Regions from separate parts of the Homo sapiens genome. Here all the other regions are linked to region 5. Evidence: fine-mapped expression QTL. A gene starts in region 5. Each other region holds a variant in brackets. All regions are shown on one strand. Distances are from middle to middle. Region 1 overlaps UST (uronyl 2-sulfotransferase). Region 2 has its middle 63 kb from the start of UST. Region 3 overlaps UST (uronyl 2-sulfotransferase). Region 4 has its middle 150 kb from the start of UST. Region 5 holds the start of UST (uronyl 2-sulfotransferase). Region 6 holds the start of LOC107986659 (a long non-coding RNA gene). Region 7 overlaps UST (uronyl 2-sulfotransferase).

The links. PIP is the estimated chance that this variant, and not a neighbour inherited with it, causes the effect.
Region 1: its variant is the best candidate, but not a certain one, in a credible set for the expression of UST in whole blood (INTERVAL, PIP 0.64).
Region 2: its variant is the best candidate, but not a certain one, in a credible set for the expression of UST in lymphoblastoid cells (GTEx, PIP 0.66).
Region 3: its variant is the best candidate, but not a certain one, in a credible set for the expression of UST in whole blood (TOPMed, PIP 0.66).
Region 4: its variant is the best candidate, but not a certain one, in a credible set for the expression of UST in sigmoid colon (GTEx, PIP 0.58).
Region 6: its variant is the best candidate, but not a certain one, in a credible set for the expression of UST in pancreas (GTEx, PIP 0.68).
Region 7: its variant is the best candidate, but not a certain one, in a credible set for the expression of UST in anterior cingulate cortex (GTEx, PIP 0.67).

What each region holds. Positions count from the first base shown.
Region 1 is chr6:148,829,350-148,833,417 of GRCh38, reverse strand. The region is part of intron 1 of UST (uronyl 2-sulfotransferase); the gene reads right to left. Among named protein-coding and RNA genes, the nearest start is that of UST, 84 kb to the right of the region's middle. The variant T/C (reference allele first, on the strand shown) is at 2,144.
Region 2 is chr6:148,682,274-148,686,341 of GRCh38, reverse strand. No RefSeq gene overlaps it. Among named protein-coding and RNA genes, the nearest start is that of UST, 63 kb to the left of the region's middle. The variant C/T (reference allele first, on the strand shown) is at 2,195.
Region 3 is chr6:148,856,556-148,860,623 of GRCh38, reverse strand. All of the region lies in intron 1 of UST (uronyl 2-sulfotransferase), which reads right to left. Among named protein-coding and RNA genes, the nearest start is that of UST-AS1, 110 kb to the left of the region's middle. The variant G/A (reference allele first, on the strand shown) is at 1,804.
Region 4 is chr6:148,590,130-148,594,197 of GRCh38, reverse strand. No RefSeq gene overlaps it. Among named protein-coding and RNA genes, the nearest start is that of UST, 150 kb to the left of the region's middle. The variant C/G (reference allele first, on the strand shown) is at 2,519.
Region 5 is chr6:148,745,381-148,749,448 of GRCh38, reverse strand. UST (uronyl 2-sulfotransferase) reads right to left here and starts at 2,419. Exons shown (of 8, transcript NM_005715.3): 1 at 1,772-2,419. The coding sequence starts at 2,018. It overlaps LOC124901425 (a long non-coding RNA gene), which reads left to right and starts at 3,850. Exons shown (of 2, transcript XR_007059806.1): 1 at 3,850-4,068. RefSeq lists enhancers at 281-780, 781-1,282, 2,591-2,670, 2,731-2,790 and silencers at 1,461-1,630, 1,931-2,020.
Region 6 is chr6:148,772,459-148,776,526 of GRCh38, reverse strand. All of the region lies in intron 1 of UST (uronyl 2-sulfotransferase), which reads right to left. LOC107986659 (a long non-coding RNA gene) reads left to right here and starts at 2,964. Exons shown (of 2, transcript XR_001744408.2): 1 at 2,964-4,068. The variant A/G (reference allele first, on the strand shown) is at 2,033.
Region 7 is chr6:148,919,470-148,923,537 of GRCh38, reverse strand. The region is part of intron 2 of UST (uronyl 2-sulfotransferase); the gene reads right to left. Among named protein-coding and RNA genes, the nearest start is that of UST-AS1, 43 kb to the left of the region's middle. The variant C/T (reference allele first, on the strand shown) is at 2,509.

The DNA of each region.
Region 1 (4,068 bases), 84 kb before region 5:
CCTCCGGGGCTCAAGCGATCCTCCCAACTCATTCTCCCAAGTAGCTGGGATCACAGGTACATGCCACCATGCCTGGCTAATTTTTGTATATTTTGGAGAGACAGATTTCGCCGTGTTGCCCAGGCTGGTCTCCAACTCCCGAACTCGAGCAATCCGTCCGCCCTGGCCTCACAAAGTGCTGAGATTACAGGCATGAGCCACTGCGCCTGGTCAGGTTCCACAATTTTAAAAAACATGCTTATACTATTTTTCTATCATTGCAGATAACTGTTTCATTATACCCTATGATACTGTCTTCATAGTCCTAAATGAAGCAGTGGTGAGAAGGTCATGAATGATCTGGTGCTTTTTCTCAGGAGGACAGGGGGTCAAGAATGATTCCATCAAATGGTGTTGGATAAGGGAGCTCCTATACTTTCTTTTCTTGTTATTAACGATTTGAGATGAAGGCTTTTTCTCATGCTTTTCTATGGGCTATTTGTTCTGACAGTTATGACAAAGAAAAGATAGAAATACAATACTGTCTTGGCATTGCTTGTTAATTTTAAGAAGCAAGTTGAAAAACAAATCAAAGAATATAATACTTCAGGAGTTTTGAGTCCTTACCTAAATATCAACTAAAACTCATCTGACCGAGCTCCAAATAGAAACTGACTACACTGCACCACTGGGTATCCCAACTCTAATAAGGTATTGTATCCTAAGGCTCATGCCACTGGATTTGCATTTTCTAATTCACTTTCCAATGCAAGATTACTTGGACTTCTGATGAAAATGCTCCTCCAAACAACTAAATCACCATCAGGTTTATAACCAACTCAATGTGTGATAGTCCTGACACCATCACCCCAACCTAACGCGGCACATGGTTATTTCACTCTATGGGATGCTGATCAGTTTTTGGTCTGTCTCAGCTACATCTTTAAATTACACTTGTGCTGTACTCAGATCCTAAGGGCTTCATACTAAGACATGTAAATTATATCCATAAGCAAGATGTTCAGTTGATAGTTTTTTCAAGGATTAAAAAAAATTAATATGCACACCAAAACTTGGCATCCCATTTTGGATGATTTCAATAAAGATCTCACAATATCCTCAGATACATCTCAGAGTCAGGAAGAACACATTTACGGTGTTTGGTTTAAAGTCAATTAATATTCTTTTGGGAGGCCGAGGCAGGTGGATCACCTGAGGTCAGGAATTCAAGACCAGCCTGGCCAACATGGCGAAACCCTGTCTCTACTAAAAATACAAAAATTAACTGGGCGTGGTGGTGCATGCGTGCAATCCCAGCTACTTAGGAGGTTGAGGCAGAATCGCTTGAATCCAGGCGGTGGAGGCTGCAATGAACTGAGACTGCGCCACTGCACTCCAGCCTGGGCAATAGAGAGAGATTGTCTCAAATAAATAAATAAGTAAAGTCAATTAATATTCTACCAAATGTATTTACAAGTATTAGACCCATTGTTTATCATCAGGTTGGGTAATTGAGTTTAACTGCAGTGAGTCAAAACTGAATTGGAATCCACCACTTACTAGCCCTATATATGACTTCGGGAAAGTATTTAAGCAATCTGGGTCTCAGTTCCACCCCACCTACTTTCTTTTTTTTATTTTTTTTAAGAGATAGGGCTGTACTCTGTGCAGGCTGGAATGCAGTGGCACAATCATAGCTCTCTGCAGCCTTAAACTCCTTGGCTCAAACAATCTTCTTGCCTCAGCCTGCCGAGTAGCTGGGACCACATGCATGAGCCACCGCACTCAGCTAGTTTTCCTTATTTTTAAAATAGGGGATAACAATTGTTCTCATCTCTGAGGGTTACTGTTAGGATTATATGACTTCTTATTTGTCGGGCACTTAGCACAGTGTCTTGCTTCCGATAAGCACTATATAAATGTCTGCTAAGTGAAAATAGAAAATACAATGCCTGGCACTCAGAAGGGATTCTATAAGTGATAACTAAATCTGAAGCCAATAGCAATAAAGACTTAATAAAACAAAACTAAACTATAAGGCGAATTTCCTATAATAATAAAGTAAAAAGAATACTTGTCTGTGAGTCATGAAATGACTGTCCCAGTCACAAATACACCCTGTGGCTGTGGAAAAGACACTTCCTCTCTCTGCACCTGAATTTTT[T/C]CATCTGCAAAATGAGAGAATTGTACCGCAGAAGTTACAGTAGCTTCCAGATGCTGGTATGTGGCTGCGAAACAGTCGGCGCTGGTCTAGTCTGTGAGAAAGACGAAAGCAAAGGGCACAAAGGGCAATGTGTTGATCTGCTTCCTAAAGTTATATTTAATCATTTTAAAGGAATTTCCTTCAAGATTGATTCTTCCCACCCCCCCCTTTTCTTTCTTTTTCTTTCATCTTTCTTTTAATTTTCCTTTCTTTTCAATGTAAAAATTTCTTTTCTTTCAAGCAACGGTGATGAAAGCAGAATTTTACTGTGGCAAAATACATATATAATTTACCATTTTTAAGTGGACAGTTCAGTGGCATTAAATACATTCACAATGTTGTGCAGTCATCACCACTATCCCTCTCCATAACTTTCTCATTAGCCCAAACTGAAACTCTACACATTACACAATAGCTCCCCATTTCCTCCTCCCCCCTGTCTCTGGCAACCACCATTTTATTTTCGTTTCTATGAATTTGACTACTCTAGGTACTTCAAATGAGTGGAATCATAAAACAGTGTCTTTTTGCATCTTGCTCCTTTCACTTAGCGTAATTTCTTGATGGTAGAATTTTTAAAAATGTTTTTACTTGACAGTCCCCAAGTAATGCTCTTCCTAGTTTCTAATCCAAAAAACCACTGGACTAGAAAACCTCTAAGGTCTCATCTAGCACTAAGGTTCCATAGTTCTATGATCAAGGGCAGTGGTCACATTTTCAGTGCATTGTGGCACCCAACACATTGTGGGTGAGTGCTCCCGAAAGGAAACGATGCGGCAAGACCCTGGGGCTGCTGCTTAGTCCGGTCGTCTTTGTGGGGATAGAATTGGATAGAATATGTGTTGGGTCTATCACTTCCCATATTAATTGCCATATCTCTTTTGTGCTCTAAACTAGTTATACTATAAATGTAGAAATGAAAGGATAATAGAAAATACAGTTTTTGAATGCATGCATCATGTTGCCAGACAAAACCTGGCCCACTTGCCACAAACTGGCAAGAAATTGGTGGGTGTGGTCCAGTTTCCAGCAAATTCTACAAAGCACCTCCTCATGTCTGAACTTTGAGCAATTCAGTAAGTCACTCTATTAAGGGAACTATTTTAGGGAGGTATTGGTTTCTCCAATTACCTTAAAAATCACAGATCTCAGGTTTTGCTGTTTTTCACTCACCCAGCCTCATGGACAAGAGGCTTCAGGAGTTGTAGGCTTTATGTGGCATTCATCATCCATCTTTTAAGTGTAGTGCCTGGTGGTTTTTAAATGTTAACAAAGTGATATGCAAGTCTTTTCCTGTGCTACTAACCCCAGGATGTTCTTGCACTTTAAGTCACAAACTATGAAATTACTTTTTAAAACACCTTCCAAAATAATAGTCCCTAGGTCAGACCAAAGCAAGTAGAGAAATACATAATGATGGGTTGGTAAAATTGTTTTGTGTTTTGAGAATTGAAGCTATGAGTAACTATTAGAAAGAAGAGGACTACAAAGAACAAAGTATTAAAACAAGTGTTTCTGAATATATAAAAGTGAACCCCCAACCATTCCAAACAAACCGAGGGTAAAAATAAGGAGAACACTCGTCTGTGAGTCATGAAACCAGGAGAACACAGTGATCACAGGGAGAGGCTGGTGCAGAGTCCAGCAGAGAAATGATGGCCTCAAAAGGGCAAGTAGAGATGGTGAGAGTGGGGTGGATTTGAGCCGGATTTTGGAAGTAGACTGAACAGCACAGAGAACACTTAATTCTTGTGTCTGGAATCTCATACAATATATAATTAGCCCATGTGCTCTGCCCGCTTCACAATGATGCTCACACATGGCTGAAGATTTCTGCATTTTCCAGATAGGGAAGTTGGGCCTAGAGAGGGTCATTAGTGCAGAGG
Region 2 (4,068 bases), 63 kb after region 5:
AGGAACATACAAAAACGCTTTGGAAGTGATGGATATGTTTATTACCTTGATTGTGGTTATAGACAGGTGTGTGCCTATGTCCAAACCCATCAAATTGTATACATTAAATGTTCAGGGTTTTTTGCAAATCAATTATACCTTAATAAAGCTGTTAAAAAAAAGATGAGTTTGTCTATGTTGTCCTTTTGTCTCTCTCAACCGTCTCAAAAATGACTTTTTGAGAGTCAGAGATACCTTGATGAGATTCTACAATATCTACTTAGGATCTCACACTGTCTCTCTAATAATTAAAAAGGAAAAGTATTTAAGCTAAGTAACCCCAAGATAAGAAAAAAACATTGCCCTGATAACATTAAATTAAATTCTGCATCCTCAAACTCTAAGATTTTTTTTTATTATATATTTATTTTTTGAGATGGAGTCTTGCTCTGTCACCCAGGCTGGAGTGCAGTGGTGCTATCTCAGGTCACTACAACCTCTGCCTCCCAGGTTCAAGCAATTCTCCTGACTCAGCCTCCCGAGTAGCTAAGATTACAGGTACCCACCACCATGCCCAGCTAATTTTTGTATTTTTAGTAGAGATGGGGTTTCGCCATGTTGGCCAGGCTAGTCTTGAACTCCTGACCTTAAGCGATCTGCCTGCCTCGGCTTCCCAAACTGCTGGGATTACAGACGTGAGCCAGCGTGCCCAGCCCTAAGTAAGATTTTAGAAAAAAAATAAAGTATCCTAGTTATAAAGGTTACTGGGACCAGGAAGTTACCCTTTTTATTTCTGAAGGAACTTCAGGTTTCCCTGAAATGAAGGAGATACAGACGGGGTCTTAACAGCAGTGAGAATCACAGATAAATATGACTCCATTTATGGGGCTTTAAATTACTTTCCATAAAAATAATGTGGCATTTTTATTTATATATCACTGGGTAATGCTTAAACTTAATGTAGTTAGTGCTAAGGGGCAGCTGGAGTTTTATATATTATTTTTATTTCTGGAAGGTAATCCAAACAAGAGCAAACCACAAGTCCTTCTAACACTGCAATTCCTGCTCTTAGTCTATTCTAAGCACACATACCTCAGTCCCATTGAAGATGCATCACTGAGATGAATTCAGGTTATCCTACGAAAATAGTATAACCTGAGATGGAATGAACAGCAATTAATTTCTGCCATTCAAAAACATCTTGTGCAACAATGAATATCAGTCTCCCACCCCACCTCTGCCCAACCTGCAAAATCATGGTTGAACAAAACACTCTAAATTACATAAATGGACACATAGACTCCCAGGCTCTGCTGCAGAATGTGTTTTGAGATTGCAAACATAATTTAATCCTTGACAATTTCTCTCCCTCCCTCTCGTCTCCACTTTTCTAGGCCAGTATAGATGTTTCTGTGTTCAAGTTTTGTTTCGCTTTGATATAATTTTTGTTGTAGTGAAACAAGAATCTACCTATTCATGTGGGTCCCCAGCTACCAAAAGCCTCCTCTTGAGGGTTCCCCATATGCATTTCACATGTGCTTAGAAATGTGTCTGGCCAGGTTTCAGGTCATCTTCCATCTATCCATTCTGATACCTGTGTCAGTAAGAAGGTCTTTTAGCACCTCTATTTCTTCTTTAATTCTGAGTATTTCCTGTTTCCTTTTCTTATCCCTCCATCCTGTCTGGGCTTCTGGCAGTTTGAGCCCGGAGGTCCAGATTTAGAGTATAATTAGTAAGCATTCCATCCCTTAACCCCAGGGTCCTTGGGAGCAGACTGCTCTGCTGGCCCTGGCCCTGCCCCTGCAGGATATCACCCCTGATGCTGCCTCAGGAGAGCCCCACCCAGATTCTGCAGGGCCCACCACACCCTCCAGACCTGGTGGTCTCCTTCTGGGTAGTGCTGCTGTAGGCACAGACCTCTGCCTACGACCACAGCTTCAGCTGCCACCAGCGATGCCTGGGAAGCTTCCAGGTACCAACACTGTCTGCTGGCCACTGTCCCCTTCCCTATCTCTCTCATATCACATTCCTTTAGGGAATTACCCAAGCAAAGCAAGTATATCCCAGTGTTAGCCTAAATAAATAAATAAATGCTCCAATTATGACTTACAGCCCCTTCTCTTCCTAGAACCCAGATGTAGAGTCTTGTGTACTGATGACAGATCTGTGAAACTGGCACAACACTGTGCTCCAAATTCCTCCCCACCGTTGACCA[C/T]GAAGCCTCTATGGCGGTATCAAGCTGGTTGTGCCCGGTTCCTTCTTCCCTTAGGATGAATTACCTCCTAGGAACCTCCTTAGCCTCTGGAAATAGGCTTTCATCATCTCATCCTACCTGCCCACCAGACGTAACCGGAAGTGTCTAAATCCCAGGAGTGGCTGCAGTTCTGCCTCAGGTAAGACCTCTCTTCCTTTGAAAAGAACAAAGTCCATTTGAGACTGAGAATGGGATGACATGCTTCTGGACAGTTGCATGTGGGGAGCATCTCGTGGTATTTACAGACGTGAGGTATGAAGAATGCAGAGGGAATGAAGGAGCCTTAGCCAGGCCCTAAACTAAAAAACAACAAAACTAACTTCTAAGTAAATGAAACTTACCCTGTTGCTCTCACCTAAGTGAGAATGGTTGGTGGTTTTAAAGTATATTTCAATGGCTCTTTACCCAGCATGTATTTTGCTAAATTTTATACTAAAGTTATAGGTTAGCTTTGACATGATTGCAAATTTGTTTTCTAAGCTATTCTAGGAAGCTTAATTATGGAGCCCTAAAGGAAGTTGAAACTTCCCTGTGCAATTTATAAAAATCTACTTGTAATTTAATGTACAAGCACATTACAATGTAAGTATAATCTACAATGTATACTTAACACACCACACACGGTGCACATATCTGCATATTACAACATACAGAGCGTATCCTATAGGGACCATTCTTGAGATTTGGGGTGCTGACTAATCATACTCTTGCTCTCCTCTGGGTTCTAATCAGTTTGCTGTGTAAACAGGAGACAGATGGGAGGTCACAGAGTGCCAAAGGGTTAGGGGGAGAGTGAGGCTTCCTTCTTCTCCCCCGGCTGAATCTGACTTCCCCTCGCAGCCACAGACAATGCGGCTGGGGAGTTTCAGTCAGGAGAGGCCCTTCCTGCTGAGCTCACCACGAGGGAAGGTGAAATGGGAGGAGGTGGAGATGTGGACCTGCTCCCTGGTGTTGGATTCCACTTCTGCTTTGGCTCAGTTCAGAGCCTGTTGGACTCTTCCATCTGTCCAGTTAAGAAAGTAACTTCTTCCAAAAAGAGGAACTAGTAGAGGAAGAAAGAATTGAGAAGCTTCCTGATTTAGTACGTCCTGAAGATAGTGACCATATTGGGGGAGAGGGAGGAAGCTCTTATTTTAGGCATTAAAATGAGTGTAAGAAAATAAAAGTGCCTTCCTTTAGGAGAGGCAGAACTAGTTTTTAATATTTTATGGAAGCTACTGGAGAGTTAGCATAAGCTGTAGAGAGGTCATCTTTAAAGCAAACATGGTATAATAAGCCATATCTTAAAATGTAATTTTAAACTTAGACCAAACTATTCTATTTTAAATTGGGACTTTTTAATAACAGAATTCTGTCCAGTTTTTTATGATCACATGTGCACATGTACACGTGCACACGGGAACACACACACGAATAGGCAAAATAATGAAAGGATATCCACAAAGACAGCTCTGTGTGAAATTCAATGTGGCATTGTTTTTATCTTTTGGTTTATCAATTTTTTTCCCTGAGATTTCCAAAATGTTACTTTTCTAATAAGAGAAAAAATGTGTGTGTGTGCGAGTGTGTGTGTGCGTGGTGTGTGTCCATGCACGCATGTGTGCTTGCACACACGTGTGTACGTTCACATGTGCCTGTGTGTGTGTGTGTCCACGTGTGTGCTTGTGTGCACGTGAGCCTGTGTGTGCATGTGTGTGTATGCACGTGTGTGTGCACGCACGTGTGTGTGTTTAAATAAACAATTCTGTAGCTCCTGAGCATATTCTGGCCTGATGCGTAACAGCAGGAATAAACAAAGTCAAACCATCGCTGTCCTGGGGAAACCTTGGCGGCGG
Region 3 (4,068 bases), 110 kb before region 5:
CCAGTATCATACTGAATGGGCAAAAACTGGAAGCATTCCCTTTGAAAACTGGCACAAGACAGGGATGCCCTCTCTCACCACTCCTGTTCAACATAGTGTTGGAAGCTCTGGCCAGGGCAATCAGGCAGGAGAAAGAAATAAAGGGTATTCAATTAGGAAAAGAGGAAGTCAAATTGTCCCTGTTTGCAGATGACATGACTGTATATTTAGAAAACCCCATCATCTCAGCCCAAAATCTCCTTAAGCTGATAAGCAACTTCAGCGAAGTCTCAGGATACAAAATCAATGTGCAAAAATCACAAGCATTCCTATACACCAATAACAGACAAACAGAGAGCCAAATCATGAGTGAACTCCCATTCACAATTGCTTCAAAGAGAATAAAATACCTAGGAATCCAACGTACAAGTGATGTGAAGGACATCTTCAAAGAGAACTACAAACCACTGCTCAAAGAAATAAAAGAGGACACAAACAAATGGAAGAACATTCCATGCTCATGGATAGGAAGAATCAATATCGTGAAAATGGCCATACTGCCCAAGGTAATTTGTAGATTCAATGCCATCCCCATTAAGCTACCAATGACTTTCTTCACAGAATTGGAAAAAAACTACTTTAAAGTTCATGTGGAACCAAAAAAGAGCCTGCATTGCCAAGACAATCCTAAGCCAAAAGAACAAAGCTGGAGGCATCATTCTACCTGACTTCAAACTAAATGACAAGGCTACAGTAACCAAAACAGCACGGTACTGGTACCAAAACAGAGATATAGATCAATGGAACAGAACAGAGCCCTCAGAAATAATACCACACATCTACAACCATCTGATCTTTGACAAACCTGACAAAAACCAGCAATGGGGAAAGGATTCCCTATTTAATAAATGGTGCTGGGAAAACTGGCTGGCCATATGTAGAAAGCTGAAACTGGATCCCTTCCTTACACCTTATACAAAAATTAATTCGAGATGGATTAAAGACTTAAATGTTAGACCTAAAACCATAAAAACCCTAGAAGAAAACCTAGGCAATACCATTCAGGACCTAGGCATGGGCAAGGACTTCATGACTAAAACACCAAAAGCAATGGCAACAAAAGCCAAAATTGACAAATGGGATCTAATTAAACTAAAGAGCTTCTGCACAGCAAAAGAAACTACCATCAGAGTGAACAGGCAACCTACAGAATGGGAGAAAATTTTTACAATCTACCCATCTGACAAAGGGCTAATATCCAGAATCTACAAAGAACTCAAACAAATTTCCAAGAAAAAAATCAAACAACCCCATCAAAAAGTGGGCAAAGGATATGAACAGACACTTCTCAAAAGAAGACATTTATGCAGCCAACAGACACATGAAAATATCCTCATCATCACTGGCCATCAGAGAAATGCAAATCAAAACCACAATGAGATACCATCTCACACCAGTTAGAATGGTAAAAAGTCAGGAAACAACAGGTGCTGAAGAGGATGTGGAGAAATAGGAACACTTTTACACTGTTGGTAGGACTGTAAACTAGTTCAACCATTGTGGAAGACAGTGTGGAGATTCCTCAAGGATCTAGAACTAGAAATACCATTTGACCAAGCCATCCCATTACTGGGTATATACCCAAAGGATTATAAATCATGCTGCTATAAAGACACATGCACACGTATGTTTATTGCGGCACTATTCACAACAGCAAAGACTTGGAACCAACCCAAATGTCCATCAATGATAGGCTGGATTAAAAAAATGTGGCACATATACACCATGGAATACTATGCAGCCATAAAAAAAGGATGAGTTCAC[G/A]TCCTTTGTAGAGACATGGATGAAGCTGGAAACGATCATTCTGAGCAAACTGTTGCAAGGACAGAAAACCAAACACCACATGTTCTCACTCATAGGTGGGAACTGAACAATGAGAACACATGGACACAGGGTGGGGAACATCACACGCCCGGGCCTGTTGTGGGGTGGGGCAAGGGGGGAGGGATAGCATTAGGAGATATACCTAATGTAAATGACGAGTTAATGGGTGCAGCGCACCAATATAGCACATGAATACATATGTAACAAACCTGCACATTGTGCACATGTACCCTAGAACTTAAAGTATAATTAAAAAAAAAAAAAGAAAGATGCAAATGTTGTTCCTGGGTATGTCTGTGAGGGTGTTGCCATTTGAGTCAGTGGACTGGAGAGGCAGACCCACCCTCTATCTGGGTGGGCACCATCAAATCAGCTTTCTCCATCTTTCTCCCATGCTGAATACTTCCTGCCCTCGAACATCAGACCCAAGTTCTTCAGCTTTTGGACTCTTGTTACATCAGTGATTTTCCAGGGGCTCTCAGGCCTTTGGCCACAGACTGAAGGCTGTACTGTAGGCTTCCTTACTTCTGAGGTTTTGGGACTTGGATTGGCTTCCCTGTTCCTCAGCTTGCAGATGGCCTGCTGTGGCACTTCACCTTGTGATCGTGTGAGTCAATACTCCTTAATAAACTCCCTTCATATATACATCTAGCCTATTAGTTCTGTGCCTCTACAGAACACTGACTAATAAAAAATGCTTTCACAGTCTTAGAAGGCATTGTGTATGTTTGCATTACACAATATATTCTATAATGTTGCTACAAGTAAACATACTCTTTGCATTCAACACATACTTGGGTTTTTTTTCATTTTCGCCCAAGTGTTGTTTTTTGCCTAATGAAGATTCCTATTCACTGACAGGAGAAACCACTATCCTGTGGTTTCTCAACCACTAGCCACCCAGACCTGGATCAGACAGAAAAAATAAACAGAGGTGGAGAAGCACTTGCTATGCTTCTTCCTCCTCAAACATCTGGGAATTTTTTTTTTTTTTTTTTGAGATGGAGACTCACTCTGTCTCCCAGGCTGGAGTGCAGTGGCATGATCTCAGCTCACTGCAACATCTGCCTCACATCTGGGAAATTTCATAAGGGGTAAGAGCACTTCAAGACCACCTGGAATCTTCACCATGAATAAGCTCTACAATATCGGTCAAGCCACTCAGCTTTTCTGAGTCTCTTTTCCTCATATGCAGAATTGGAGTTAAGATGACTATAACCGAGTATCTAATGTCATGGTGCAAATACAGTCTGTGCTCTAAGTTCTGCCCTTGGTAAGTTAGATATACTTACCCAGTTGTGTTAATTGACTGTGCATTCACGGGAAGGAGTAGATACAATGTTGGCAGAACTTACGGTGGGCGTAATACATTCGCTGTGCCTTAAAGGATGGCTATGACTCAACTCAGTTGTGATAAAAGGAATATACATTTACAGTGGGAAACCGTATAGTCATGAGAATGACAGGCAGAATCAGCTTGGTGTGTATGTGTGTGCTTAGGGGGCTCTGACCGTGAGAGTAGCTGTGGCTCTCCTTAGAGCATCCCTACAATTTGTTGCAGAGCTTGTGGTGAAAATTCACAGTTGAAGCCAAGTTCTGTTCACTGAATGTGTTTAACAATTTCAAGATGTTGTTAATTGACTTCCTCATAAAAATGATGAAAAGCCCAAAAAATTCTAAGATGACATACTACTACACCTACATTCATTCCCTCCTTTAAATTATATATAATAGGCATATAGTTTATATATTATGTATATATAAGTAATATATGTAATAATATATGTAATTTATTATATAATGTAATATATATATCACAAAGCTCTCATTGCCAGTATTAAGTAATTCAGCTATAATAAATTATTTATTCTAAAATGTTATCTCTGATTTTCCTCCTCAAAAAAGGAGGAAAAAAGAGAAAGTCAGGGATTCAACCACAGTAACAGTTTAGATCCCAATTCTCCATAAGCTTTGGTATGAAGACCAACCTGAAATGTAACTTAGGGCAAGTTTACACCTGTCATTTTTCTATTCTAGTCAGTTCAAAGGCAGCCTTCCTGACCAAGGCAAATAACTCACGCATAAACACGTGATTTACCCAGATCATCTCTGACATCCCACAAGAGATTATGTGGGAAAGCCCGCCCCGCAACCCTAGTCCCATCTCTTCAAGAGGTAGCTACCGCCTAGTCACTGGCCTTTATT
Region 4 (4,068 bases), 160 kb after region 5:
CTCCTACGTAACTGTATGTTGGCAGGGCACAATTTTAGAGAGGGATCGGTGATGCTGTTTTAGACACGGCAAGCAAGGAAGGCCTTTTTGAGGAGGAAGTTGATGAAGAATGGAGCTCCGTGGCTCTCTGGGAGGAAGGTCACAGGAACAGATGTGCAAAGGCTCAGACAGTGGAAAATACTTCACATGCTCGAGGAACCCCAGACAAGAGTGACTGGAGCAGCAAGGGTCAGGAGGAGACGGAGAGGATATGAGGTCAGAGACCATGGTTAAGACTTAAAATTTCATCCCAGTGGGAGTGAAAGTCCCCTAAGGGTTTCAGCAGCCACGTGGCCTCCTCTGAATGCAAGGGAAATGGAGCCACTCCTGCCCAGTCAGAGTTAACTGGAGTTTTATGTATGGCTTACACTTGTACCGCTAAGTAGAGGTACAGAGGGAAAATTTGGGCGATAATTTAACTTTTGACTGGATGAAGGCACGGGGGTGTCAGAACGGCTCATTTTTTTCCCTAGATAATTTAGTTTCACAACCATGCCTTGTAACTGGCTGAGGGCCTTATCTGTCAGAAACTTAGCCATCCGGCTCTACAAATGAAATCTCATGAGCTCTCACTCCTCATCTGGAGCCTGGACCCCTCAATGGGGCCCCAGGCAGCAGGGCAACAGCATCATGTCAGCATCATGTCAGCGTCCTGCCACCCCTCTCCATGCAGCAGAAGCAGACGGGAGAAAGGGCGGCGACTCCTGTAGAGAGGGGGCTTAACCCGTGAGCGTGAGAGGCAGTGGTGGAAGTCATTTGCTAAGTCAGAAGAGGCCCAAACATAGGGAAAAGGTCGTGTGAGTATAATTTCAACTTCCACTTCCATTTCACGGCCACATGCCACTTCTCGTAGTCATAACAATGTTAAAACTGGAACAAAATAATCGTTTAGGGAACTTCAAGTCCTATAAATGATCAAACTGTGCTGAGCAGTGCTAGGATTCCACAGAGGTGACTCAGGGACACTCTGGAGAATGTCACTGGATGTGAGGAGAAGCCCGTGGGTGGACAGAGGGTCTCCTCCCTTCCAAGCCCTACCCTCTGCTTCCATCTATGCTGGATTGGCTATTTATCTAAGATTTTGCTTCAAGGAAGAGTTTTGGCGCCAAAAAGTAAACAACAACAACAATAACAACCAAAAAAAACAGATTCTGAGATTAATTAGGACTAACTATGTGCCAGGCACTCCACTGAATTTTTTTTTACAAACATTATCTCATTAATCCTCCAATAGCCCTATGAAGTAGATATTATAGTCCTATTAATGAGAAAATTAAGACTTAGTGGAGTTAAGTAAATTTTTCATGTCTCACAGTACTGCAAAGCCAAGATTTGAACCCAGGCCAACTCATCTGACACCTCAACCTCAACTCCTAACTTTTATGCCATCCTGAAAAAAGAAAACCTATCAACCAAGGTTATTCTCATTACCATTCAAGGAAATGTCTTAAAATGTTTAGAATAGCCATTGTGTTCATCTGCTTGGGCTGCCAGAACAAAGTATCACAGACTGCATGTCTTAAACAACAGAAATTTATTTTCTCACAGTTGTAGAGGCTAAGAAGTCCAAGATCAAGGTGCTGGCAGATTTCGTGTCTGGTGAGGACTCCCCTCCTGGATTGCAGATGGCACCTTCTCACAGTGTCCTTTCATGACCTTCCTTGGTGCACACGTGTGCAGAGAGAGAATGCTGATATATTTTCCTCTTCTTAAAAGAGCACCAGGCCAGGCGTGGTGGCTCACGCCTGTAATCCCAGCACTTTGGGAGGCCAATGCGGGAGGATCAAGAGGTCAGGAGATGGAGACCATCCTGGCTAACATGGTGAAACCCTGTCTCTACAAAAAATATAAAAAATTAGCCGGGTGTGGTGGCACGTGCCTGTAGTCCCAGCTACTCGGGAGTCTGAGGCAGGAGAATCACTTGAGCCTGGGAGGCAGAGGTTGCAGTGAGCTGAGATCGCACCATTGCACTCCAGCCTGGGCAACAGAGCGAGACTCCATCTCAAAAAAAAAATTTAAAAAAAGGTACCAGACCTATCAGATTAGGGACCCATATGTGTGACCTCAGTTAATTTTATTACCTTCTCATAGTTGCTATCTCCAAGTATTGTCACATTGAGGATTAAGATTTCAACATAAGAATTTTGAGGATACACAAATATTCAGTCCTTAACAGCCATAAAGGCTAATATAATACTGACACTTATAGAGCTTTCACTATTTAATATATCCTTATGTAGTGCTTACTCTAAGCAGAGCCCTATTCTAAGTGTGAAAATATTGACTCATTTAGTACTTCCAATAGCCCCAGGAGGTAGTTGCTATCAATATTTTCAGATAAGGAAAAGACTGAGGCACAGAAAAAATGATTAATTTGTTCCCTAGTGGTGAGCAGTGATGTAAACCTGTCAAATACTTCACACACACACACACACAAAAAGTTTAATCATCCCTCAGCCTCCCTGGGGGATTGGTTCCA[C/G]AACTCTGCAGATACCAAAATCCCTGGATGCTCAAGTCCCTGATACAAAATGGCATAGTATTTGCATATAACCTGTGCACATCCTTCTGTATACTTTAAATCATCTCTAGATTACTTATAATACTTAACACAGGCCAGGTGCAATGGCTCACACCTGTAATCCTAACACATTGGGAGGCTGAGGTGGGAAGATGGCCTGAGCCCCAGAGTTTGAGATGGCAGTAAGCTATGATTGTGCTACTGCACTCCAGCCTGGGCAACATAGTGAGACCCCAACTCTAAAAAAAATTTAAATACCTAATATAATGTAAATGTTGTGTAAATAGTTGTTACTGTATATTGTTTCCTATTTGTATTATTTTTTGTTGTTATATTGTTATTTTTGTTGTTGTTGTTTCAAATATTTTCAAGTCAGCATTGGTTGGATCCAAGGATGTGGAGCCCACAGATTTGGAGGGCTGACTATAACTGAGGGATCAGGCTCCTTTCCCACCCATGGCTCCACCTTCTTCAATGGATGCTTCCCATGTCACCATGGAAGGGAAAATAACGTGAGAGGTTCTATGCGTCAGCTCTGGCTTCCTCTCACATTCCATTGGCTAGAACTCAGTCATGTGACCACACCTACCCGTGAGAGAGGCTGGGAAATGCAATCCAGTTGTGCGTCCATGACAAAAAGGAAAACGTTAGGTGAAAAACTCGCAATATCTTCTACTATAAAGACACAATAAGTAATATAAAATATTCTCAATTTATTTGGAGAAAATAACCCAATTTCTGTATTTGATTTTTTTAAGTTGCATATCCAGGAGGGCTAAATGGCAATAGATAATTTTTTTTTTTAAGCAAATGACATTTTCAGAATAGAGTAGCCACATGTCCCAAGACAGAATCCACATCATTTACTGCCTGTGCCAGTGCCATGGCTAGGCAATCTGTGAAAGTCTCCCCTTTGTTTTTCTTCTTTTTCCTGTGTGCACCCCTATTCTTTCCCTCTGAACCTTATTTCCTCCTCCCCACCAGTTTCATTTTCACTTTTGTGTGGTTCCATTCTCACCTGTTTTGGGCATGAATGGACAGGGGCACCACAGACATCACCAGCCCCCCTCACTTTGGTGGCCCTTGAGCTGAAGGAGGAAAAAAAGCTGTTTAGTGGAGCTGAGAGGGGGCTGGGCACAGATAGTGCCTGGTTTGTCCCAGCCCCGACACTTTCCAGCTCTAGTTGACCCAGGACAACTTTGCTGCTCATTTTTCCCACTGGTTAAGGTCCAGGTGTATACAGGAATACGTTGGAGATATTGTGGGTCCTGTTCAAACCACTGCAATAAAGTGAATGTCACAAAAATGCACGTCACAAAAATTTTTTTGTTTTCCCAGTATATCTAAAAGTTATGTTTACACTATACCACAGTTTATTGTGTGCAAAATCATTATGTCTAAGAAAACAATTCACATACCTTAATTTAAAAATGCTTGATTGCTAAAAAATGCTAACAATCATCTGAGCCTTTGACACATTGTAAGCTTTGCCAGTGGAGGGTCTTGCCACA
Region 5 (4,068 bases):
CTGGTCCATTACACTTTTCCCTACACCCCTGGCCTCCATCTATTACTTAAAAAGAACTTCCACAAGAATTCACTGTCAGATTTAATGGAGAAAGACCCTGAGCCTCAACGCTTGCCTCCCAATGCCTGTTAACAGGGATTGCTGCTGGTGATGAAAATACTGTTAACTTTTGTGGCACTAGCAGGTGTCAGAGAGTGGAGGAAGCTATGAGACTCCACAATACAGAACTTATGAAAAGAAGAGGTTTGATTCCCTAATAAAGGATATATTGCCCCAAATCCTCTATGAAACCAAATGCTATGGAAATCTACTTGGGCCAACTTTTCCTGTAATCTGTAGTTCCCCAAAGTTTATAAAGAAATAAAAGTGTAACTTTTAAAATATGAGGTCTTGTACAAGGTAAAGAATATTATTTTATCCACATCTACATTTCCAAATGCCCTAACACATTTGTAACTTGGCTGATGTGGTTTTGTTTTTGTTTTGCTTTGTTTTGTTTGTTTGTTTTGGGTTTTTTTTTTTTCCTTTTCTTTTCTCTTTTCTCCAAACGGTCTACTATCTAGACCTGTGGCTTCTGCCACGAAGTGACGTTTGGGGTAACTGTGGCAGCCTCCAGCTGGCCCGGGTCATTTGGCCCATTTTCTTTCCAGCACTTCGGTGGCTCTGCTTCCCCGCACTCGCTCTCATCGTGCAGATGCTCAGGCTTATCACTTCGGATGCTTGCAAGAAGCTGGAGCTCTCCCAGCCTTCACCCCCGCACGACCTCTTCTGGCCACAGACTTGGGAGGGATCTGCATCCTCCCTTGGCTCGAACGCGAGTGCCAGCATCGTCCTTGCGACCTGGGCTTGCGCTCGCCTGTCCCTGGCACCCCTGGCTCCCGCAGCCGAGACGAGGGAGCTGCGGGGTCACGCCTTCTCGCTGGAGCGGCTCTTTCCCTCCCGTCAAACCCCTTCCTTACTTCTGCTAAAGACAGGCGGCCTCTCTCCTAATAAACCACACACACACACACACACACACACACACACACACACACACACACACACACACAAGTTTTGACTTGAGCTTGAGACGCACACAGCGCCGAGGATCCTCGGGTTACTGGGGGCGACACTGCTGGCCAGGCTGACCAGCGCCCTCGGGCATCCCCAAACCCCTGGATGCAACCCGTTCCCCGCGCCAGGCTAGCTGCGGGCGGCGGGGTGGGCAGCGGCAGCCAAGGGACAAGCCAGCCCGGGGACAGCGCGGAGCCACTAGGGCCGGCGGGCAGGCGGGGGATCTGCGGGACAGAATTCTCAGAGCGGACGGTGGCAAAGGGCTAAACCCACCCACACTCCCCGGGGCGCGGGACGGGACTGAACTGCGGTCACTAACAATGCAACGAAGAGGACCTTCCCTTCCCTTCGCCACTCCCCGCGCCGCCAGGCCTGAAGATACACACACTCCGGCACACCCCACACACCCATCCACTCCGCCCCAGTCCGGATCCGGGTGGCGGAGGTGGGGCGGGGGGAAGGTGAGCGGTGCCTCGCCCCGGGGTACCTGCCGGCAGCGCAACCCAGCGGCGCCCCCGCCTCGGTGAGGACAGTCGGACGCGCGGGAGGAAGAAGGCGCTCCCGACCGCGGCACAGATGCTCACGGGCTTAGCACCTGGAGAGACCCGGGGCGGCGGCGGCGCGCGGTGGCAGCGCGAGAAGTCCCCGCCGCGACCCTCTCCCCGCCGCACAACTTTGCGCTGTCGGCGCCGCCCTAGCGCCTGCCCAGCTTCCTTACCCAAGTACTGCCGCAGGTCGAGCAGGAAGCGAGGGGGTCCCCCGCTGAGCTGATAGAGGAGGGAGCCCAGGCAGAAGACCAGCAGGGTGGCCATGCAGAAGCCGTAGTCCCGGAGGGAGAAGCGCAGGAAAGGCAGCAGGGGCACCCGACGCTTCCAGCTGCCCAGGCCCGGAGGGGCGCCCCCCATAGGGGCCCCATGGGGCCAGGGATCCGCGCCGCCGCCGGGATGCTGCTGCTTCTTCTTCATCGCCTGCTCCGCTGCCTCCCACAGCCTGCCCGTGCCAGGAAAAGGTCACCCATCCGCCGCGAGGAGGAGAGCCCGGCTGGCCGGCTGCACATGGGGAGGGCCGCGCGGAGGGCAGCCGGGTGGGGGCGGGGAGGGGCCGAAGTTGCCGGGCTCAGGAGACTTTCTTCGGCATGGTCCCCGCCGCCGCGGCCCGAGCGGCCGAGGTGTCCGGCCCCGGTTCGGGGCGCTGCCCGTGACGGGGCGCCGCGCCCGTCCGGCGCCCGCTAGCGTCCCCACGCCCCGCGCCCCGCCGCGCCTCGGGCTCGCTTGCGGCCGCCGGGGCTCGCCTCCAGCGCCAGCGTGGACCCCCCGGCTTTGTGTCTGTAGGTCTCGGCGTGTTTTGTCCCGGTTCAGGCTTCTCTAAAAAACGGCAGGGAGGAACAGGAGGCGGACACCATCCCCTCGCTCCACCTCCTTGACAGGGGTTTTCCTCCTTCTCCTCCCCTTTCTCCCTCCGGCGCTCCGCAGCACTCTCCTCCCTCTCCCCTCCCTCTCCGCTCGGGTCTCGGGATTTCGCTCGGGTGTCACGTTACTGCTTCTGCTGGGGGCGGAGGGGGGGAGGCGGCGATTATTCGCAACAAGGAAGAAAGTTTCTGGGTGTTTTCTTTTTTTTTCCTTCCCCCGTTCTTTACAATCTGGATGCGGTTCCTGCGCCACCAGCGACCTCTTGGGGGCCCCGCTGACTTCCCTCTTGTAAACAGTCACCGGCAGGAAGAAGCACGACTGACTTTACTATTTACATTTTTTTCAGTTCAGAAAGTTGATTCTCCTTATATACCCCGTGCGAGCTGCTTACCCAAGGCTGATAAAAGGTACTAGAATACAGGCTCAAGACTTTGCTGAAATGGGAAAAGAGCAAGCGGTGCGAGTTATGGTCAAACACGCCCCAGAGGGCCAGGCGCAGCGCCTGAACTCCCGGGTAGGGTAGCCGAAGAGGACGCTCTGTTCTTGCTTTTCCTGGTCCTACAACTGCTCCACCTCGCAGTGCCCAGAGAGGCAAGTGGGGGGTGCATAGCGGACTCTAGGAGGTCATTGCCCTGCAGACATGAAGGGGAAAGAGCCCAGTCCGCCTATACGCTGATTTCATTGCTGCCTCTCTTCCCTCCACGGGAAAGCCTCTGGACCTGAAAGAACCTCCTGGGGCAGAAAAGGCTCAATCCTAGACATAGATCCTCTGATGGGGTGGTTGATCCACGGAAGGGCTGCTCTGATCAGCCACACTTTAAGTAAGAATACTATATCACTATTTATAGAAGCTGTAGCACCTGAGGGCTGTGTGACTCACCCGAGGTCCCAAAGCTAGTAGTAGGAGTTGGGTTGGGAGTTGCACTCAAATCTATTTGACCCTCAGACCCACTATACTAACCACTGCACAGCAGTACTTCCCAGCCAGAGCCCTTTTCCTTCACGTCCCATAGGAGGATGAGATTTAATTCATTTAGTTCAGGCCACATTGAGAAATGGAAACCTCAGTTTCTGGTGCCTATCATTTCTGGCTCCCTACTCATTTGTATATTCCAGTAATGAACAATTGGATTTAAGAAGGAACCAGGAGCCAAGAACCTCTATGATTCTAAGACTAGGCTCCTGAAAACCTTCATCAAGTTAGGCATCTGAAGAATATTCTGTGGAAAATTACAAAATATTATCCTAGACAAAGAACTTACTCGTTAAGAATATGTCTTAACCTCAGCTACTCAGGAGGCTGAGGCAGGAGAATCGTGTGAACCCGGGAGGCGGAGGTTGCAGTGAGTCGAGATCGCGCCATTGCACTCCAGCCTGGGCGACAGTGCGAGACACCGTCTCAAAAAAAAAAAAAAAGAAAGAAAAGAAAAGAAAGAAAGAAAGAATGAATATGTCTTAACCATGTTCATATATGAATGTCTCTGGTTCATGATTTGAAACATATATCATGAGCTAGAGAGATGTGTAGATGAGGTGACAGGTGCTGCACACACACAGAGACACACGTACACACACACAACTCTACTGTCCAATTTTACATTGTCCT
Region 6 (4,068 bases), 27 kb before region 5:
ATTAAACTTTAAGTTTCACTTCAAAACTCACCACGTGCAGAAAAGAATGAGATGATTCTGCACAAAACTGGTCATCACAATAAAACAGCTTTATTTCCAAGTCCCTGAAAGGCTCAGTTGCGTCATTGACCACACTCCCACCCTCAAAAATCCACCGCAAACACTTCTGCTGAGAAGAGGATTGAACACATAGGAAAATGTAAGCTAATGGTCATATTTTTAAAAATCTTGGAAGAAGATCCACTAAGGGCCTGAATGAGAACCAGAAAGTGCTCCTCTTCTGGAAACCAGGACTGGAGGTCTGAAGCAAAAGCCAGAATTTCTCTAACACAGAACAACACCAGGCTGGTATTTAAAGAGATCTTTCTTGTCTATTTTTTTTCCTTCAGAGGAGGCAAATTTGCCCTATTAATTCAGCCAAAATAAATAAGGACAATTCTCTGGAATTCACATGTCCTTTAAAAAATGCAGAAAATAAAGTGTAAGTAATAAAATTTCAGCTCATAATTCCTCCAAGTTATAAAACAATAGCAATAACAATCAAATATATACGTCCTGTTCTCCTAGAACAAGGTATAAAATTCATATTTTACCAGGCCGGGCGCAGTGGCTCACACCCGTAATCCCAGCACTTTGGGAGGCTGAGGCGGGCAGATTTCCTGAGGTCAGGAGTTCGAGATCAGCCTGACCAACATGGTGAAACCCCATCTCTACTAAAAATTTCAAAAAAAATTAGCTGGGCATGGAGGCGTGTGCCTGTGATCCCAGCTACTCGGGAGGCTGAGGCAGGAGAATTGCTTGAATCCAGGAAGCAGAGGTTGCAGTGAGCCAAGATCGTGCCACTGCACTCCAGCCTGGGGGATAGAGTGAGACTCTCTCCCCGCCCCAAAAAAAAAAAAATTTAATTAAAAAAAGAGTTACAATCAACTAAAACCAACACAGTTTTCAGGGATGTATGTGTGTATGCACACCCACATGCACACACATACACATACACAGAGGTAGTTTCACAGTGACTGCTGAAGTTTAAATTTCAGGAGCCCTTACTTTTATGAGCTCCTTTCCAAGTCTGAGGGGTGGCTCTAACAATAAACGCACATGCTCACGTTTTTTTTGCAAAATCTGCAAAAGGAAACTGCCATTGGTAAAGACCACCACCTCGCTCCATCCTAACTTCCCCTTCTCCACACAACCTCTCACGCTGGGCGACACTGCACTGGAGTGGGCATTTTTTTTTAACTGACAATGTTTTATTCTTTGTCCTAAAGGAAGCTGTCAAATTCACATAATATTCAAGCCCTGCAAAACTTGGCAGAGAACAATAAATACAAGACCAAGAATACTAGTTACCTCAGGTAGAGGGCGGGCCTAGGAGGGACGGAGAGGATAGCATATGTATGTTTAAGATATTCTCAATATTGGGAAACCCTTGTTAGAGGTGAGATCATTATGAAGTCAAGGAGGAATTAACAAGCTTTTCTTTCATGCACTCTTTTTTTTTTCTTTGAGATGAAGTCTCACTCTGTCAGACTCCAGGCTGGAGTGTAGTGGCGTAATCTCGGCTGACTGCAACCCCCGCATCCCAGGTTCAAGTGATTCTCCTGCCCCAGCCTCCCCAGTAGCTGGGATTACAGGCGCCTGCCACCATGCCTGGCTAATTTTGTATTTTTAGTAAAGACGGGGTTTCACCATGTTGGTCAGGCTGGTTTCGAACTCCTGACCTCAGGTGATCCGCCCACCTTGGCCTCCCGAAGTGCTAGGATTACAGGCGTGAGCCACCGCACCTGACCTCATGCACTCATTTTTCTCTGAAATTCACAAATCCTCTAAAAAATGCTGAAAAGAAAGTCTGAGTAACAAATTTTTCAGCTTGTATTTTCATTCCATTCCCCCCACAGATTTTTGTTCTAACAGATTATACTTCACGCTTGAAATTACTGTATTGATCTCTCTGTTCTATTTCTACATGACAAAACTATGTAGGTAAAGTAAAATTCATTTAAAAAATATTCTTGTGACCATAATGCTTTAA[A/G]AGTTTAAACTATATATCCTGAATTTGAGTTATTATTAAGATTACCTTTGTTTCACAGTTGATCAAAACAATATAAAGATTTTACACATTTCACAAATAATTAAAATCAAAAGTGGAATTTGATCATAAATACAGTGAATAGGGCCTTGTCTATAAGTAAATTTCACTGATTTCAATTTTATTCCTATTTATTCATTATATTTTTATATATATATATATATATAAAATAACCTTGTTCGCTTTAACAGACAGGAATGGAGAGTGTTTAGTTATAGCCGTGTCACACGCTTCTTTAACATCTTTCTAAATCCCATAGTGATCTGTTGGTGATCTACCTGAGGGGATAACTAGATTAGATCCTCCTTCACTTTGGTTGAAAGCCAAGAATAGGAGCCACGTGACCTGCAAAAGGGTTTGCTGTAGTCACTAGTCATTCACTTTCTCCATGCCAGGATTTTGAATTCTTCCTTTGGTACCTGGAGGTGTTTGACACCAGCATAGAGTCAGATAAGCTTCTTTATAAAGTCGGGGAGGACAGAGGGAAGCTGGTGGGAATTGGGCCGCAAGACAAGTTCTCAGGGAGATCAATTTTAGGGAAGAATAATCTGGCAGCAGACATTTGGCAATTTGATTCCTCTTAGACAATCCCTGCTCAACGCCCATCCCGCTGGAAGTCTTTGCGTTCATGGCGCCCCACGTACAAAAAAATGCTATTCTGAGCCCTAAACCTGGCATTTGGTGCAAATTCACACCTTCACTCTGACATCTGTCCCTCACACTGTCCTTTTGTTCAGTGTAAAACAAAAGTATGGATGCCCTACAAAAATATGTGAACAAAATGTCACCCAACGGAAAGAATTTGAATATTTACCTTTCCCTGTGTACTAAAAGAAATGTAGTTTTGTGTGTGCATAGAAAACAGTCTTCTGGGATTTGCATTTACCTCATTTATACTTGAAAAATAAATTAGACTCTTAATACATACATGTCATATAATTCCAAACATGAAAAACAATCACTTTTTTTTTTTTTTGAGACAGAGTTTTGCTCTTGTCACCCAGGTTGGAGTACAGTGGCACAATCTTGGCTCACTGCAACCTCTACTTCCCGGGTTCAAGCGATTCTCCTGCCTCAGCCTCCTGAGTAGCTGGGATTAAAGGCATCTGCCACCACAGCCGGCTAATTTTTGTATTTTTGGTAGAGATGGGGTTTCACCATGTTGGCCAGGCTGGTCTCGAACTCCTGACCTCAGGTGATCCCACCCATCTCAGCCACCCAAATTGTTGGGATTACAGGCGTGAGCCACCAGACCTGGCCAACAATCACCATTTTAAAATTCATATAAATTTAGGTAAAATTAAAAGATATGGAAATTTAAGTCTCAAATTGTAATGCACTTTATAATTCTTTCAACATAGATCCTATTTTCTATAATTTTTTTTAAAATTCCTTAAACAATTTTGTGAGATCACGTACCCACCAATGCCTAGAATAAGAATATGTCAAGACTTGCAAAAGTTTGCTGAATTGGAAAAAGAGGTTCGCAAAAAAATGTTAATAAAGTTGTTGAAAAATAGTAAAATCAATTCCATCCTCTAATTGACAACTATTGTAAAATTGGAAGTATGTTTGATCTTTTCTTAAAAGTTCCTCTAACAGATAAGGTTTTAAGACATTCAAAATATGTTCATTTGGAATTTCCCCCTCTGAGAAAGATTCTGGCCCAGATCTCATGTCTTAGGGATGGGGAGTAACACTGAAAGCTCAGAAGGGGCTGGACACGGTGGCTCAACCTGTAATCCCAGCACTTTGGGAGGCCGAGGTGGGAGGATCACTTGAGGCCAGGAGTTTGAGACCAGCCTGACCAACATATCGAAACCCTGTCTCTTCTAAAAATGCCAAATATTAGCCGGGCATGGTGGTGCACACCTGTAATCCCAGCTACTTAGGAGGCTGAGGCATGAGAATCGCTTGAACCCAGGAGGCAGAGGTTGCAGTGAGCCAAGATTGTGCCACTGCACTCCAGCGTGGGTGAC
Region 7 (4,068 bases), 170 kb before region 5:
TAACCCTTTAAACACTGATTAAAAAACATGGAGTAATCACAATGAGATACCACTTTATAGCCACCTGGCTGACTATAATCAAAAAGATGAACAATGACAAATGTTGGCAAGGATACAAAGACACTGGAAGCCTCCTACATTGCTGGTGGAATGTAAAATGGTGCATCCACTTTGGAAAACAGTCTGGCAGCTCCTCAAAAAGCTAAACATAGAGTTACTATATGACCCAGAAATTCCACTCCTAGGTGTATACCCAAGATATGTCCCCAAAGTCTTGTATTGAAATATTCGTAGAAGCATTATTCATAATAACCCAAAAGTGGAGACGACTGAAATGCCCATGAAATGATAAGCAGATAACTAAAACATGGTATGTCCATGCAATGTCACTATTTTAAGCATAAGCATTTTTTTTAAGGGTGGGAGTTGGGTACAGGCAGCTGGACACTAAAAGGCTTATGCCTGTAATCTCAGCACTTTGGGAGGCCGAGATGGGTGGATCACTTGAGGCCAGGCCAAGAGTTTGAGACCAGCCTGGCCAACACGGTGAAACTCCATCTCTACTAAAAATTAAAAAATTAGCCAGGTGTCATGGGGCATGCCTGTAATCCCAGCTACTTGGGACGTTGAGGCATGAGAACTGCTTGAACCTGGGAGGTGGAGGTTGCAGTAAGCCGAGATCGTGCCACTGCACTCCAGCCTGGGTGACAGAGAGAGACTCCATCTCAAAAATAAATAAATAAAATAATAATAATAATAAAAGAAGGCCAGGTATGGTGGCTCATGCCTGTAATCCCAGCAATTTGGGAGGCCGAGGCGGGCGGATCACGAGGTCAGGAGATCAAGACCATCCTGGCTAACACAGTGAAACCCTGTCTCTATAGAAAATACAAAAAAAAAGTACCTAGGTACTCCTAGGTACTGAGGAGGCTGAGGCAGGAGAATGGTGTGAACCCGCGAGAGGGAGCTTGCAGTGAGCTGAGATCGTGCCACTGCACTCCAGCCTGGGGGACAGAGCGAGACTCCGACTCAAAAAAAAAAAAAAGAAAAAGAAAGATCATCTCTATGCAAATAAGGAATAGTATTCTGCCATAGAAAGAAATGAACTGATACCTCCTACATGGACAGACCTCGAAAACATTATGCTGAGTAAGAGAAGTCAGACATAAAGGCCACATATTGTATATTGTATGATTCCACTTATATGAAATGCTCAGAATCCTGTAGGCAAAATCATAGAGACAGGCAGTATGCTAGTGGTTGTCAGGGGTTGGAGGTCATGGGGGATGTGGGGAGTGACAGTCAATAGGTACAGGGTTTCTTTTTGGAGTGACAAAAATGCTTTGAATTGGACAGTGGTAATGGTGGCAAAATTTTGTGAATATACTAAAAACCACTGAATTGTACACTTTAAAAGGGAGAATTTCCTGGTATGTGAATAGAATTACATTTTTGAAAACAATAGTGTACATTTTATCTCTCTTCCCCACCATGAGACTTTCCAGTGCTCTCTTCTCCACTCCCCTCTCATGTTAAATCTGAGGTTGTTTCCTGTGGCCGATGTCCTCCTTACTAATTCTGGCTCTGATGATGCTGGGTGTTTGAGGAGAGGGTGGGGACTGGAGCCCTGCTCTGGGTAGAGATGTATCACATGGCTGGGGCACAGGGTGGAAGAGTGGGGCATGGGTGGCGGCAGTGGGGACAGCCAACTGGAGGGAGATGGGGCTCCAGAGGCACCAGACCATGGGGAGTGGCACTTCATGACTGCGACTGGATGCTGAAGGGCCTCTGTCCCCTTCCTGTGCTTCCATAACCCACAAGGATGCTCCAGGTCCATCCTGCTCAGAGGAAGTTTCTCTATAGCTGTTCACCTGGAGTGCAGAAAGCTTGGTGGGTCTCTCCTCCCAGGGATGTGTGCATTCCAAAGGATGGCTCCAGAGAGGGAAATGCTTAATTAATTCTAACACAATACCTGTTCCTCATAGGCTGCCAGACAGAGAGTCCCTGGAGAGGTAGAGTTTTTGTTTTGGGGCTCCAGCCTAATCTCCCCATACGGATGGAATGCTTTTTCACAACCACCCAACAAACAACAAGCATACTATACAACACACAAAATCACTTAGGAAAAAGCAAGTTATGATTGCTGTTGGACCCAAACACTCACGTCTTCTCCATCTCTGGGCGATTCTCCTGTTCACTTGTTGGACTTACAATTATTAGTACAGAGCTTGGCACTAAATTATTCTCAACTCCTTAATCTGTATGTATTTAATCTTCCCAGAGAGACTACAGGCAGGAGCTCTGTCTTCATGGAACTCTTCCCCTTCCAGGCAAAGGATGAAGCTCAGCCCAGGGACTCTGGATTCTGTCTGCCTGGTTGCCACCAGCAATTGGCCATTAACTGATGTTATTTAAACCTTCCTTGTTAGAACTAATTAATAGACTCCTCTTGTGTACTATCAAGAAAATGCCTCTGAGACTTTTGCAAGTAACTGCATCTAATTACCT[C/T]TCCAGCCATCTATTTTAGGTGCCAGAAATGCCTAATGAGGAGAGCTTATAAAGGGGTCTATAACACTCGCTGGTAGAGGCTCACTTAGCTGCTGTTTGTCCTTCTGACGCTCCTGATGGGAACACGGTCAGGGTACAGAGATTTATTAAAAATAACACACCATCTCTTAAAGAGTCCCAGTCTTGCTTTTAAAAGAGCAGGCAAGAAATCACAAGGAATTATTAAAAAACAAAAGCACTGGGAGGTAGAGACGAGTGAGTAGGTTGAGCCTGGGAGTTCGAGAGCAGCCTGGGCAACATGGTGGAATCTCATCTCTACAAAACACAACAAAAACTAGCCAGGCATAGTGGCATGCACCTGTGGTCCCAGCTACTCAGGAGGCTGAGGTGGAAGGATTGCTTGAGCCCAGGAGGTTGAGATTGCAGTGAGCCAGGATTGGGCCACCGCATTCCAGCCTGAGTGACAGAGCAAGATCTTGTCTCAAAAACAAATAAAAGCAAACAAAGAAACCTCTCGAGGGTGGGCAGGAGGGTTGGAGTGGAAAAAGGGAGGGAAGAACTTTGCTCCTACCCCTCCATCCTCAGGGCATCAGAAGAGGGTGAAGCAGGGGGCCTCCAGAGAGACCACATTGGCCAGTGTGGAGGATGGAGTGGTGGGGGCGAGGCTGGAACCAAAGACATCAGCAAGATCTGTCTCAAAACGTACAGCAATTAGGACCAAGAGGCTCACAATGTGTCCTCTAAAGGTCAACAGCTAGCATCAAAAACCCTGAAGATGAAACAAAATCTACCATGTATTTAAATGAATGGAAACATAATTGGGAGTCTAATTTGTGTAAAGATAGCTGGGTCTCAGCCAATCACAAGCCGGTCTAAGCTTCAGCCAATAACAGGCTACCAACTGATCAGACCACATCCAGTGAACGCAAAGCTGAGCTGTAAGGAATCAAGTTTTTTGTGTACCTGCCTTCTACTCTGTCTATAAATACTGCCCATGATGCAGAGTGCAGCTCTCTCTGAACCTCTTATGATTTTGAAAACTGCCTGATCCATGAATCATATTTTGCTCAAATAAACTGTTAATTTATTAAAATGTTTCCTTTTAACAATGTTATTCTAGTAAATATGGGCCTTTAAACCTGTGTCTTCCTGTCTAGTCCTCAAACTCAAATTAAGCCATTTTAATGGATGACAGTAGTCAGAAGCCACCTGGCAACACCCTGGAAAGTCTAAAAGGCTTAACTGGTGCCATAGCCATTAAAAAAGGAAATATGTTTTAGAAATAATGACCATAGATTACTTGTTTCATCAAACAGGACAAAATATTTAGAAGAAAAACATCAAGAACAAACTTGGCACTGAATAACAGTTTTCAGAAGACAAACTATTTTGAAAACTTTTGGGTTCTGCATTTTGCCATGACCACCATGGTACCTGTGGGACAAGATTATGAAAGCATAATTATTTCATTATGTAGAAAAACCTTAAAGACATACCTTCTTCCCTGCTGGACTGGGAATTCACTGTGGCTATAGAAGCAGGTGTTGATAGTCATCTACT